Regions from separate parts of the Homo sapiens genome. Here region 2 is linked to region 1. The links come from fine-mapping of genetic effects on gene expression. A gene starts in region 1. The other region holds a variant in brackets. All regions are shown on one strand. Distances are between the middles of the regions.

Region 1 (5,237 bases):
GGGGTTTCACCATGTTGGCCAGGCTGGTCTCAATCTTTAAATATTTTTTAAATTAAAATAAATGAGCATGGCTGGGGGGGTGGCTCACACTTGTAATTCCAGCACTTTGGGAGGCCGAGGCGGGTGGGTCACCTGAGGTCAGCAGTTGGAGACCAGCCTGGCCCAACATGGCGAAACCCTGTCTCTACTAAAAATACAATAATTAGCCGAGCGTGGTGGCAGGCGCCTGTAATCCCAGCTACTCCGGAGGCTGAGGCAGGAGAATCGCTTAAACCCGGGAGTCGGAGGTTGCAGTGAGCCGAGGTCACGTCACTGCACTCCAGCCTGGGCGGCGACAGAGCGAGACTCCAACTCAAAAATAAATAAATACATAAATAAACAGATAAATACAGAGTACTCCGGCCTGGGCAAGGGGTCAGAGTGAGTGTGCCGAGGCCAGGGAGGGTCCCCGTGCACACTGACAGGCGCTGGCCTGGGTAAGCCTGTGGGCTGCAGAGCCGTCGCCAGGATCTGGTGACAAGGACCCCGAGCCACAGCCTCCCTTGTGACTTGCGGGTTCTGCCGGCGCCTGCAGGAGGCGTCTTTCTGCTTCTCCCACTGCCAGGCATGGGCGGTTCTCGTGCCGTGCGGGTCCCGCCTCCTCCCTGCTCCCAGCCGCGAGCCCTGGGGCTCTGGCGACCTGCCCGGCCTGACATCTTCCCAGGGTGAACATAAAAGAACCCCCTTCAGCTGGAGCACGCATCTGCCTCGGGGCGGGCCACAGCCTGGCACTGCCAACTGTGCCGCCCGCCCGGCCTCTCCCGCACCACCTTGGGACAAACAGCTGTCCTGCCCGCCTATGCGGAGGTGGCCGGCGGGGCCGGCGTGGGGGCGCAGGGATCCCCAGGGTGTGGGGCAGCCAGGCCGAGGCGAGAGACACGGTCGGGCTCAGCCCATCCACTGTCAGCCGGGCACATGCTGGCCCTCCCTCAAGTACCACTGAGTGCCTCCTGGGTGTAGGAAGAGGGCCATCTCTGCCCCGGTGGCCTCGAGGTGCAGATGGGTGGGGGGCACCCGGCACACGGGACATCGTGGCTGAGAGGACGTCAGGCCAGGTGCCAGGAGGGTCCCAGGAGGGCCTCCTGCCTCCAGGTGGGGATGTTCAGCCTCCACTTCTTCGAGTGTGACTGTCTGTCTCCTCTCTCTCACTTGCCAGCTTCCTCACCTGCCCCCTCCCGGCTGTCTGGTGGGCTGGGTGGCTAGGGACAGAGGCCTCATGTCACCTGGCACCAAGCAGCACCCACGCCCAGCCGGCTTCGGCCCAGAAGCAGAGCCTTGGGAAGCACCTGTCTCAGAGCTGGGGACTGGAGGCACTGGGGGCACAGCTGCACCCGGAGTCCGAGGGGTCGGGGAAAGGAGGCAACCCCGGGGCAGGGGGCTCTGGTACCCGTGCGAAGGCGCTAGTGGGCTTTGGGTCTCCCTGTGACCCCAATCTAAAGCCCACCAGACCTAGAGGAGACCCCCGCCGCACGGCTCCCCAGGGCACTGTTTGAGGGGTGGGTGGGAACCCCACACCCTCGGGTGGCTTTTCCAGTTTTCCTTGTCTGGCTGGGCTTGGCCTCAGTTTCCTCAAATGCAGACCAGGGAGAGGAGTGCCTGAGTCTCCCAGAACGGCGCCCAAGCCGGCCTGCCCCTCCCCACGCACTCAAGGGTCTCTGTCCAGGGCCCACAGGCGACCCAGCAAGGGCTCCTGTGACCTTTAGAAACACCCTTTCGTCGTGGAAGTCTTCAAACCTCACAGAAAGCAAGGAGGCGCTGGCCGTGGCGGCCTCTCCCGTCTCCCAGGCCCGCGTCCACCCTCCCCGCGCCGGTGCCCTCCGGACAGAGGTGGAAGCCGCGGCGCAGGAGAGGCGGCTCCGGCCGGGCAGCGGGGCCCGGTGACCTTGGGCGCGTCCTTACACGTCGCGGGCCTCAGTTTCCCCTCCTGGGGAGAGGCCCGCGCGGGGCTCCGAGGCCTCGGGCCGCGTGACCTTGGGGCGCCCCCGACCCCGCGGCCCGAGTTTCCCGGCGCCGAGCGGAGGCGGCGCGCGGGGAGGGGGCGCAGCCGAGGCGGGTCTCCCGCCCCCGCCCCTCCCCCGCCCCTCCCCCGCCGCGAGGCTCCGCCCCCCGCGGCTCCGCCCCGCCCCGCCCCCGCCTCCCCCCTCCCTCGGGCTCCGGCCGGCGGCGGCGGCGGCGGCTCCGCTCCGCACTGCCCGGCGCCGCCTCGCCATGGACGCGCGCGGGGGCGGCGGGCGGCCCGGGGAGAGCCCGGGCGCGACCCCCGCGCCGGGGCCGCCGCCGCCGCCGCCGCCCGCGCCCCCCCAACAGCAGCCGCCGCCGCCGCCGCCGCCCGCGCCCCCCCCGGGCCCCGGGCCCGCGCCCCCCCAGCACCCGCCCCGGGCCGAGGCGTTGCCCCCGGAGGCGGCGGATGAGGGCGGCCCGCGGGGCCGGCTCCGCAGCCGCGACAGCTCGTGCGGCCGCCCCGGCACCCCGGGCGCGGCGAGCACGGCCAAGGGCAGCCCGAACGGCGAGTGCGGGCGCGGCGAGCCGCAGTGCAGCCCCGCGGGGCCCGAGGGCCCGGCGCGGGGGCCCAAGGTGTCGTTCTCGTGCCGCGGGGCGGCCTCGGGGCCCGCGCCGGGGCCGGGGCCGGCGGAGGAGGCGGGCAGCGAGGAGGCGGGCCCGGCGGGGGAGCCGCGCGGCAGCCAGGCCAGCTTCATGCAGCGCCAGTTCGGCGCGCTCCTGCAGCCGGGCGTCAACAAGTTCTCGCTGCGGATGTTCGGCAGCCAGAAGGCCGTGGAGCGCGAGCAGGAGCGCGTCAAGTCGGCGGGGGCCTGGATCATCCACCCGTACAGCGACTTCAGGTACCGCCTCCGGGAGGGCCGGTCGGCGCGAGGGGGCCCGGGGAGCCGGGCGCGCGGGGAGCCGTCCTTGGAGCGCCTGGGGAGGGCGGGGCGGCGCGCCGGGCCGGTGACCTCGGGGCTCCTCGGTGACCTCGGGCGTGTCCGGGACCCGCCCCGGAGTGACCCCGGCGCGCGAGGCTCCGCCTCTGGGGGGGCTCCCCGGGTGACCGCGGAGCGCCCCCCTCCCACGCACCCCGACATCCTCCGCCCTGCGGCGCGGCGGGTGGGGTGGGCCGCAGGGCCAGGGTCTGAGCGCAGAGGGGCAGAGAGGACGAATAGAGGGGAACGTGGGCCCCAGAGAGGCGGCGGAGCGGGAGGGAGGAGGAACGAAGGGCGCCCGGGAAGGACGCGCCCCAGGGAGGCCGGGGGAGAGGGGGTTAAGCGGCTCCCACGGCGTCCACCCGCGCCCCGCCTGCGAGGAGGCGCGCCCGGGGCCGCGGGCCTGGAAAGCGTGCGGGTCCCCAGGCTGTGTCCCCGGGAGCCGCTCCACCCGAGCCGCGGGCGGTGCGCGCATGCGGCGGTGGGTGTGTAGACGCCGCTGTGGATCCAGCCGGCTAATGCGTGGAAGGCTCGGAGCAGGGCCGGCGCGGGGCCACCGCCACTGATGTTTGCGGTCGTGGTTCCTGGGCTGTGCGTGCTGTGGCCGGAGAGCGAGACCGGCGCGTGTCCCCGTGGGCTGTGTGTGAACAGGGGCCCGTGACCGCGGCGGGGTTCCCGGGGCGCGAGCCTGTGGCCGGAGAGGTGTGTCTCCAGGAGTGTGTTTGCGTGGTGGTCGCGGGCGTGTGCGCCTCCGGTGGGTTTATTTTGGTGGGACGTGTGGTTTGTGTGTGTTGGGACCAGGTGGCGGGCGTGCGCGTGTACGCCCGGGGCCGGTGTGCACCGGTGGGCAGTAGTGTGAGCCGCAGGCAGGTCTCACACACGCGACCATGGAGGGATGCGTGTGTGTTTGTGTATCCACGAGTGGGGTGTGAGGTGGGGTGTGGAGGGTGCAGGTGGAGGGTGTAGGTGGGGCCCGCCGGGCTAGCGAGGCCGGGCGCGCGGGACGGGCGCGGTTTCAGCACCACGGACAGCGCGCCGGACCTGGGAAGCCTGCGGTTTTCCCGCCTGTCTCTCCTCCTCCAGGCCTGGGCGCCCCAGGACAGCCCCCACGGACCCTGGACCCCCGGAACTGGGCAGGGAGGCTGTGGGGTTCTCTCTTCCCCTGGATTCTCTGCACCCCTAGTGCTTGACTGGAGAAACTGAGGCCTGGGGCACATGCGTCCTGGACAGAGCCTGGAGGAAGGCCCTGGAATCCTCCTCCCACCCCAGGCCTTCCTGAGAGGTGAATACAGCTTTGACCAGAAGCCTGGATTTCGAGACAGGCCAGGGGTGGGAGGAGCCCCGAAATCCCCAGAGGGGCTGTGTCCGGCCCCTCCCACCCTGCCTCTGTGCCCCACCGGGAGAGCTTGGTCAGCATCTGGGCTCTGGCCTGCGAAATGTGGACAGTGAGCGGGAAGGACTGGACTTCCAGGGCTGCTGGTCGGCCTGGCCCCACTTCCAGTCGGGCAGTGGCACCCCCTGACCGGAGAGGGACGCGGTGGAGAGGGAGCTGTAGAACGTGCCCACTCCCCTCCGTCCCCTCCAGCATGACCTTCGACAGAGATGGGTGCACCGCAGCGTGGGGGCTGGCAGGTGGAGGCCCACACCAGCCACTCCCTCCCCTGGGCAGCTCCAGCGACCCCCTGGCTGCAGAGGGGCGGTCGGTGGCCTGGGGGGCAGGTGGGCAGATGGCTGATCCCGGGGCTTGGGGGGAAGGCCGGTGGTAGGAGTGAAGCCCTCTCATCCTTCCACCCTCCTTGGGCGTGGTCGCCTGGAGGCCTGGGCAGGCTGTGGCCCCGCTCTGTGCTCTGAGGCATAGAGGGCTCAGAGGCCCCTGTGTGGACCAAGTGCAGCCCCACCCCGGCAGATGAGTGTTGAAGTGGAACTGAGCAGGCAGGGAATGGGGTTAGCGGGGCCTGTCTTCGGGACTAGGGGAGTCACGGCAGTCAGATTTTAAAAAAGGATTTCGATGTTGCCAAGCTGGGTGCACGGGGCCCCTAGGACCCTCCCCAGGCTTGGGACCTGTGCCAGTGTGGAATCAGTGTGGAAAAAGACCCCCAAGAATATCTCAAAAGCTCCCTAAGCAGGCGGCCGGACCCTGCTGTGGAGGGTGTTTTGGGGCAGCCCACAGCAAGCGAAGGGGCCTCTACGTTTGCAGCTGACTCAGGAGCCTGGCCCCAACTGGCTTCGGGCCCAAGGCCTCCTGTGCCTGGCTGGGTGTCTTGGGTCCTCGCTGGGCCC
Region 2 (5,464 bases), 20 kb after region 1:
AATAATAAATGAAGTTAGGTCCCAGATACTCCTTGCTTCCTAGCTGAGATGTGCTGACTGTTAAGAAGGGTTAGTTATGGGAGCCCTCGGCCGCTACAGTCAGGTTAGTGGCCAGTGAGCCTTTGTCCCTGCCTGGGGAGTGCTGTGCCCCAGCGTCCAGCCACATATGGGACTTGGGATGTGTTTGGTTTGGACACAGAGCAGGTGGGCATTGATGGGGTCAGGAGCTACAGAGGGAAGACCCGCCAGTGCCCCTCCCCAGAGCCTGGCACAGCTGCCCAGGCTGAGGCAGCCCATTGTCTGGCTGCCACCCGCACATGCGGTCCCATTTCCTGAACAGAGCCCCGCGGCTCCCCTTTCCCGGCCGGGTCAGCTGAGGACTTGGTGCGGCAGGACCTCCTGGGCCGGCCTGGTGTCTCTGCCCGCCCTGCCCCTCTGCTCTGGCCCAGATGCTCCCTGGAACTTTTGCCCCCTCTTGACCTCACAGATGCTCTGATCTCAGAGGCTGCAAAAGGCGGGACCCAGACTCTCGCCCTTGGGGTCTCAGTTTCCCCAGGAGTGAAGCGGGCAGGTAGAATCAGCCCTGGCCCTCCTGCCAACTCACTGTGACAAGTGTGCAAACCATGTCATCTACCTGGGTCTCCATTTCTCTTGGTTACCTCTGAACATGGGGAGCTCACCACCTCCAGTGCTTGGCAGAGGGTGGGCGCTGGGCCCTTGAGGACCGAGGGCTCCTGGGGCGTGAGCACCTGCCCACCACCGCCCCTCCTGCTGGCCTTGCAGAACCACTCGTGGAGTGAACTGTACTCCTTCGCACTCTTCAAGGCCATGAGCCACATGCTGTGCATCGGGTACGGCCGGCAGGCGCCCGAGAGCATGACGGACATCTGGCTGACCATGCTCAGCATGATTGTGGGTGCCACCTGCTACGCCATGTTCATCGGCCACGCCACTGCCCTCATCCAGTCGCTGGACTCCTCGCGGCGCCAGTACCAGGAGAAGGTCTGAGGGAGGCGGGCCCCGGCCTGGGTTCTGATGGGGGAGGCGGGCCTGGATCTGGGGTCTGAGAGAGAGTCAGGCCAGGCCCTGGGGTCTGATGGAGGGAGGCAGGCCCGGTCCTGGGGTCTGAGGCTGGAGGGAGGCCTTGCCCTGGGGTCTGAGGGCGGAGGTAGTCCTTGTCCCGGGGTCTGAGGGGAGGGGCGGGCCCGGCCCCGGGGTCTGAGGGGAGAGGCAGTCTCAGCCCTTCACTCAGCTTCAAGTGGCGCGCTCAGGGCAGAGACCGCGTGATGGGGAGCAGGGGACCCTGGGGGTCTGTGGCTGTGATTAGGAGGAGAAACGGCCGGTGGTGAGAGGTTCTCTGACCCTGTGACAGGGAGGGAGGTCCAGAGCCTGGAGATGGACGTGGGGCGGGGGCTGGGGAGGGGATGCAGGCTGGGCAGGAAGGGGTGAGTTGGGATCAGGGCAGGACAGGGTCAGTCTTTGGACATCGGGAAGCCCCCGGGCTGAAGGGGCATTGCCAGGAGGCTGGGCCCACCTGGGGGTCTCTAGGCCGGCTCAGGATGGGGCTGGGTTAGGGAAGGGCCTGGCGGGGTCTGAGAGGCCTGGGGTTGCTTCAGGACACGCCGGTGGCCGGCAGTCAGGGCCAGGCTTCAGGGAGAGCAAGGCTGCCCCACTGCTCAGATGCGGCCTCTGGCCTGCAGCGTCCATTGGGTTAATCCTAGGCTTGGCAGTGGAGGGGACACGGGGGAGCTGGGAGGGGTGGAGGGAGATTAGGATTGGCCCCATTGGCAGCCCCTGGAGTTGGGCCTCATGCACCACTCTGTGCCTCAGTTTCCCCATGTTAGGCGGCTGGCTGGTCCTGGCTGGGAGCCAAGTGCCCCCCTCTCCCGCGCCCCGAGCAGTGGCTGGCTGGGTCAGCTGGGCCCCGTGCCAGGCGCCCTGCTGTCCGGAAGCCACGGGCCTCACACCCAAACATAAGCTGGTGCCACCACCCGCCCGCCGTCACGGGTTCCGCTGAGCTCAGGGCAGCTGCGGCCGGGCGGGGCTGGGGCGGAAGTGAGGCTGGAGCTGCCGGGGGGCACCGTCCTGGGGACAGCAGGGCCTGGCACCCCCGCCCAGCACCCACGCTCCCTTCCCTGCTCAGGAGGGGCTGACCCGATGGTTTCTGGAAAGATCATCAGGGAAGGGCCAGAGCCCCCGGGAAGGGGGTCCTGTGTGTCAGGGTACCTGGGGCCTCTCCTCGTAGAGTCAGGTGCCCACCCATTCCTCAGGGATAGGGTTGCTAGATAAAGTTCAGGGCACCCGGCCTGGTGCAGTGGCTCCTGCCTGTAATCCCGGCACTCTGGGAGGCCGAGACAGGCCGATCGCCTGAGGTCAGGAGTTTAAGACCAGCCTGAGCAACACGGCGAGACCTCATCGCTACAAAAAATTAAAAAATTAGCAGGGCAGGGTGGTGCACACCTGTAATCCCCACTACTCAGGAGGCCGAGGTGGGAGGATCCCTTGAGCCCAGGAGTTCAAGACCAGCCTGTGCAATATGGCGAGACCTCATCTCCACAAAAAATAAAAGAATCAGCCAGGCGTGGTGGCGCACACCTGCAGTCCCTGCTACTCAGGAGGCTGAGGTGGGAGGATTGCTTGAGCCCATAGGCGGAGGCTGCAGTGAGCTGTGATTGCACCACTGCACTCCAGCGTGGGCCACAGAGCGAGACAGTGTCTCAGAAAAAAAAAATGGAATTTATCATTGAAACGAATTCAACTTTGATTTAAATAGAAGCATGTTTATTTGCTCTTGTTGAATCTGGCCGCCCCTGTGTGTGGCGGAGGCCTGTCTCCCCGCTGTGGGCGGGGGCTTTGTCTGACCCAGCCCTGACCCCCCACAGTACAAGCAGGTGTGAAGGCCTATCTCCCCGCCACAGGCCGGGGGGCTGTCTGACCCACAAGCAGGTGCCCGTGTGCCCGCTGCAGGCTGGGGGCGGTGTCTGACCCAGCCTCGCCTCCCCACAGTACAAGCAGGTGCCCCTGTGCCCGCTGCAGGCCGGGGGCGGTGTCTGACCCAGCCT[C/G]GCCTCCTCCCCACAGTACAAGCAGGTGGAGCAGTACATGTCCTTCCACAAGCTGCCAGCTGACTTCCGCCAGAAGATCCACGACTACTATGAGCACCGTTACCAGGGCAAGATGTTTGACGAGGACAGCATCCTGGGCGAGCTCAACGGGCCCCTGCGGGAGGTGAGGCGGGCGCCGGGCGGGCGGGAGGCAGCCTCCGGTACAGGGCCGGCCTCCCTCTCCTGGAGCCCAGGAGCCGGTCCCTGAGGGAGGCGAGGTGCCTAGGCTGCAGCAGGAGGGACTCGAGCTAGACCTGCGTACACACCCTCCCCTCCCCGCCCCGTGAGCCTCTGCACCCCCAGGACCCCCGCCACCCCCGCCTTGCTTCCCGCTGCCCCCTTAGCAGAACTGCCTGGGTCTGTGCCTGACAGGGCGGGGCAGAAGCAGGGCAGGGGGTGGGGAGGGAGGAGCCGCAGAGGCCCCGCTGAGCACCAGGTCCTGGGGGCACTGAGGCTGATTGGAGCGGGTTTAACTCCCAGCTCTGTTCCGGTAGCCTGAGTGACCCTGGGCAAGTTTCCCAGGGTTGCGGGAACAAATACCCACAGGCTGAGTGGCTTGAACAGCGGAGATTCGGCCTCCCACCGTCCTGGAGGCCGGAAGCCCAACATCAAGGCGTGGGCCGGGCCGTGCTACCCCCCCGGAGCCCCTGGGGAGGATCCTTCCTGCCTCTTCCGGCGTCTGGGGCTCCAGGCGCCCTTGGCTTGCAGATTGATCTCCCTGATCTCTGCCTCCATCTGCTCACAGCCTTCTCCCCTGTGTGTCTCTGTCTCTTCTTGTAAATTCATCCGTCGTTGGATCAGGGCCCACCCGGTTCCTCGTGGCCTCGCCTTAACTGGGCCATGTCTGCAGAGACCCTATTTCCACATAAGGTCCTATTCACAGGAACCGGGGGTCAGGATGTCAGCCTGTCTTTCTGGGAGATGTAGTTCAACCCACAACACACATCAAACAGTTATTGAGCGCCGACTGCGTGCCCTGCCGTGTGCTTGAAGGTCCCACCCTCAGGAAGCGGGGCCTAGGGATGGCGGCCGTGATCACGCAGGCAGCAGAGAGCAGCTCTGGGAAGCGGGGAGGGACGAGGACGGGGAGGCGACATCAGCAAGGCCGTGTGTGAGCCAGGCAGGGTGTCCCCGGTGTAGCACCTGGCTCGGGCAGAGGCCCCGAGGAGGGGCTGGAGGAGCTGGGCGAGGAGGCGGGCAGGACGGGCCTGACACTAGGGACCTCGGGCCCCGGGAATGCCTCTGGGGGGGCGTGTACACCCGTTGCTCCCAGGAGGCACACACTGCGGTTCGCTTCGCCAAGAATGTTTAATTGCATTTGATGACTACGGTTTCCATTCATTCATTTGTAGAGATATAACACTCAGACCACAAAATGCATAAAATGCGGTGGCTTTTAGTATTAACAGAGTGCTGCACCCGATACCACAGCCTCACTCCAGAACATTCTCATGGGCCCAAAAGGAGACCTGGGGTGTTAGTCACCAGCTCACTCCCCGTCCCCAGCCCCTGGCAACCCACGCTACTTAGTCATTATTTAGGTGTTTAGGAGTTGCAAAGTCAAATCTTTAAACCCACATATGGCCAGGCGTGGTGGCTCACGCCTGTAATCCCAGCACTTTCAGAGGCCGAGACGGGCAGATCACCTGAGGTCAGGAGTTCGAGACCAGCCTGGCCAACATGGTGAAGCCCCGTCTCCACTAAAAATACAAAATTAGCCGGGCGTGGTGGTGGGCGCCTGTAATCCCAGCTACTCTGGAGGCTGAGACAGGAGAATCGCTTGAACCCAGGAGGCGGCGGTTGCAGTGAGCCGAGATTGTGCCACTGCACTCCAGCCTGGACAACAGAGCGAGACTCCGTCTCAAAAAAAAAAAAAGTACCAAAAAGTGCCCCAGGTCATAAGGGCACAGCTCGATAGCTGGTCCCTAAAGGGAACGTGGTGTAACCACCACACAGAACGAAGCTGGAACGTTCCTGCCGTCCTTAGAAGCTGCCTTTGCTAAGGGGAATTGCCCTGACTTCCCACACCATTGATTCATCTCCAGACCCTTGGTTTTCATGTTGATTTTTCAAAAATCACCTGATAGTCTGACCGAATGTAGCTTTCCACTGGTGTGTGTGTGTGTGTGTGTGTGTGTGTGTGTGTGAGAGAGAGATGGAGTCTCGCTCTGTCACCCGGGCTCCAGTGCAGTTGTGTGATCTTGGTTCACTGTAACCTCCTCCTCCCGGGTTCAAGAGACTCGTGCCTCAGCCTCCCGAGTAGCTGGGATTACAGGCACCCGCCACCACACCCAGCTAATTTTTTGTATTTTTAGTAGAGATGGGGTTTCACCATGTTGGCCAGGCTGGTCTCGAACTCCTGA

The links.
Region 2: its variant is fine-mapped to the expression of HCN2 in whole blood (TOPMed, PIP above 0.99). The same link has a PIP of 0.9 or more in T cells and blood mononuclear cells.

The regions. Positions count from the first base shown.
Region 1 is chr19:587,699-592,935 of GRCh38, forward strand. HCN2 (hyperpolarization activated cyclic nucleotide gated potassium and sodium channel 2) reads left to right here and starts at 2,183. Exons shown (of 8, transcript NM_001194.4): 1 at 2,183-2,879. The coding sequence starts at 2,248. It also overlaps the pseudogene LOC100420586. RefSeq lists an enhancer at 373-952.
Region 2 is chr19:607,181-612,644 of GRCh38, forward strand. HCN2 (hyperpolarization activated cyclic nucleotide gated potassium and sodium channel 2) reads left to right here. Exons shown (of 8, transcript NM_001194.4): 4 at 784-1,002; 5 at 3,079-3,225. It overlaps LOC107987266 (a long non-coding RNA gene), which reads right to left. Exons shown (of 2, transcript XR_001753828.2): 2 at 2,760-3,974. Among named protein-coding and RNA genes, the nearest start is that of HCN2, 20 kb to the left of the region's middle. RefSeq lists an enhancer at 3,730-4,039. The variant C/G (reference allele first, on the strand shown) is at 3,063.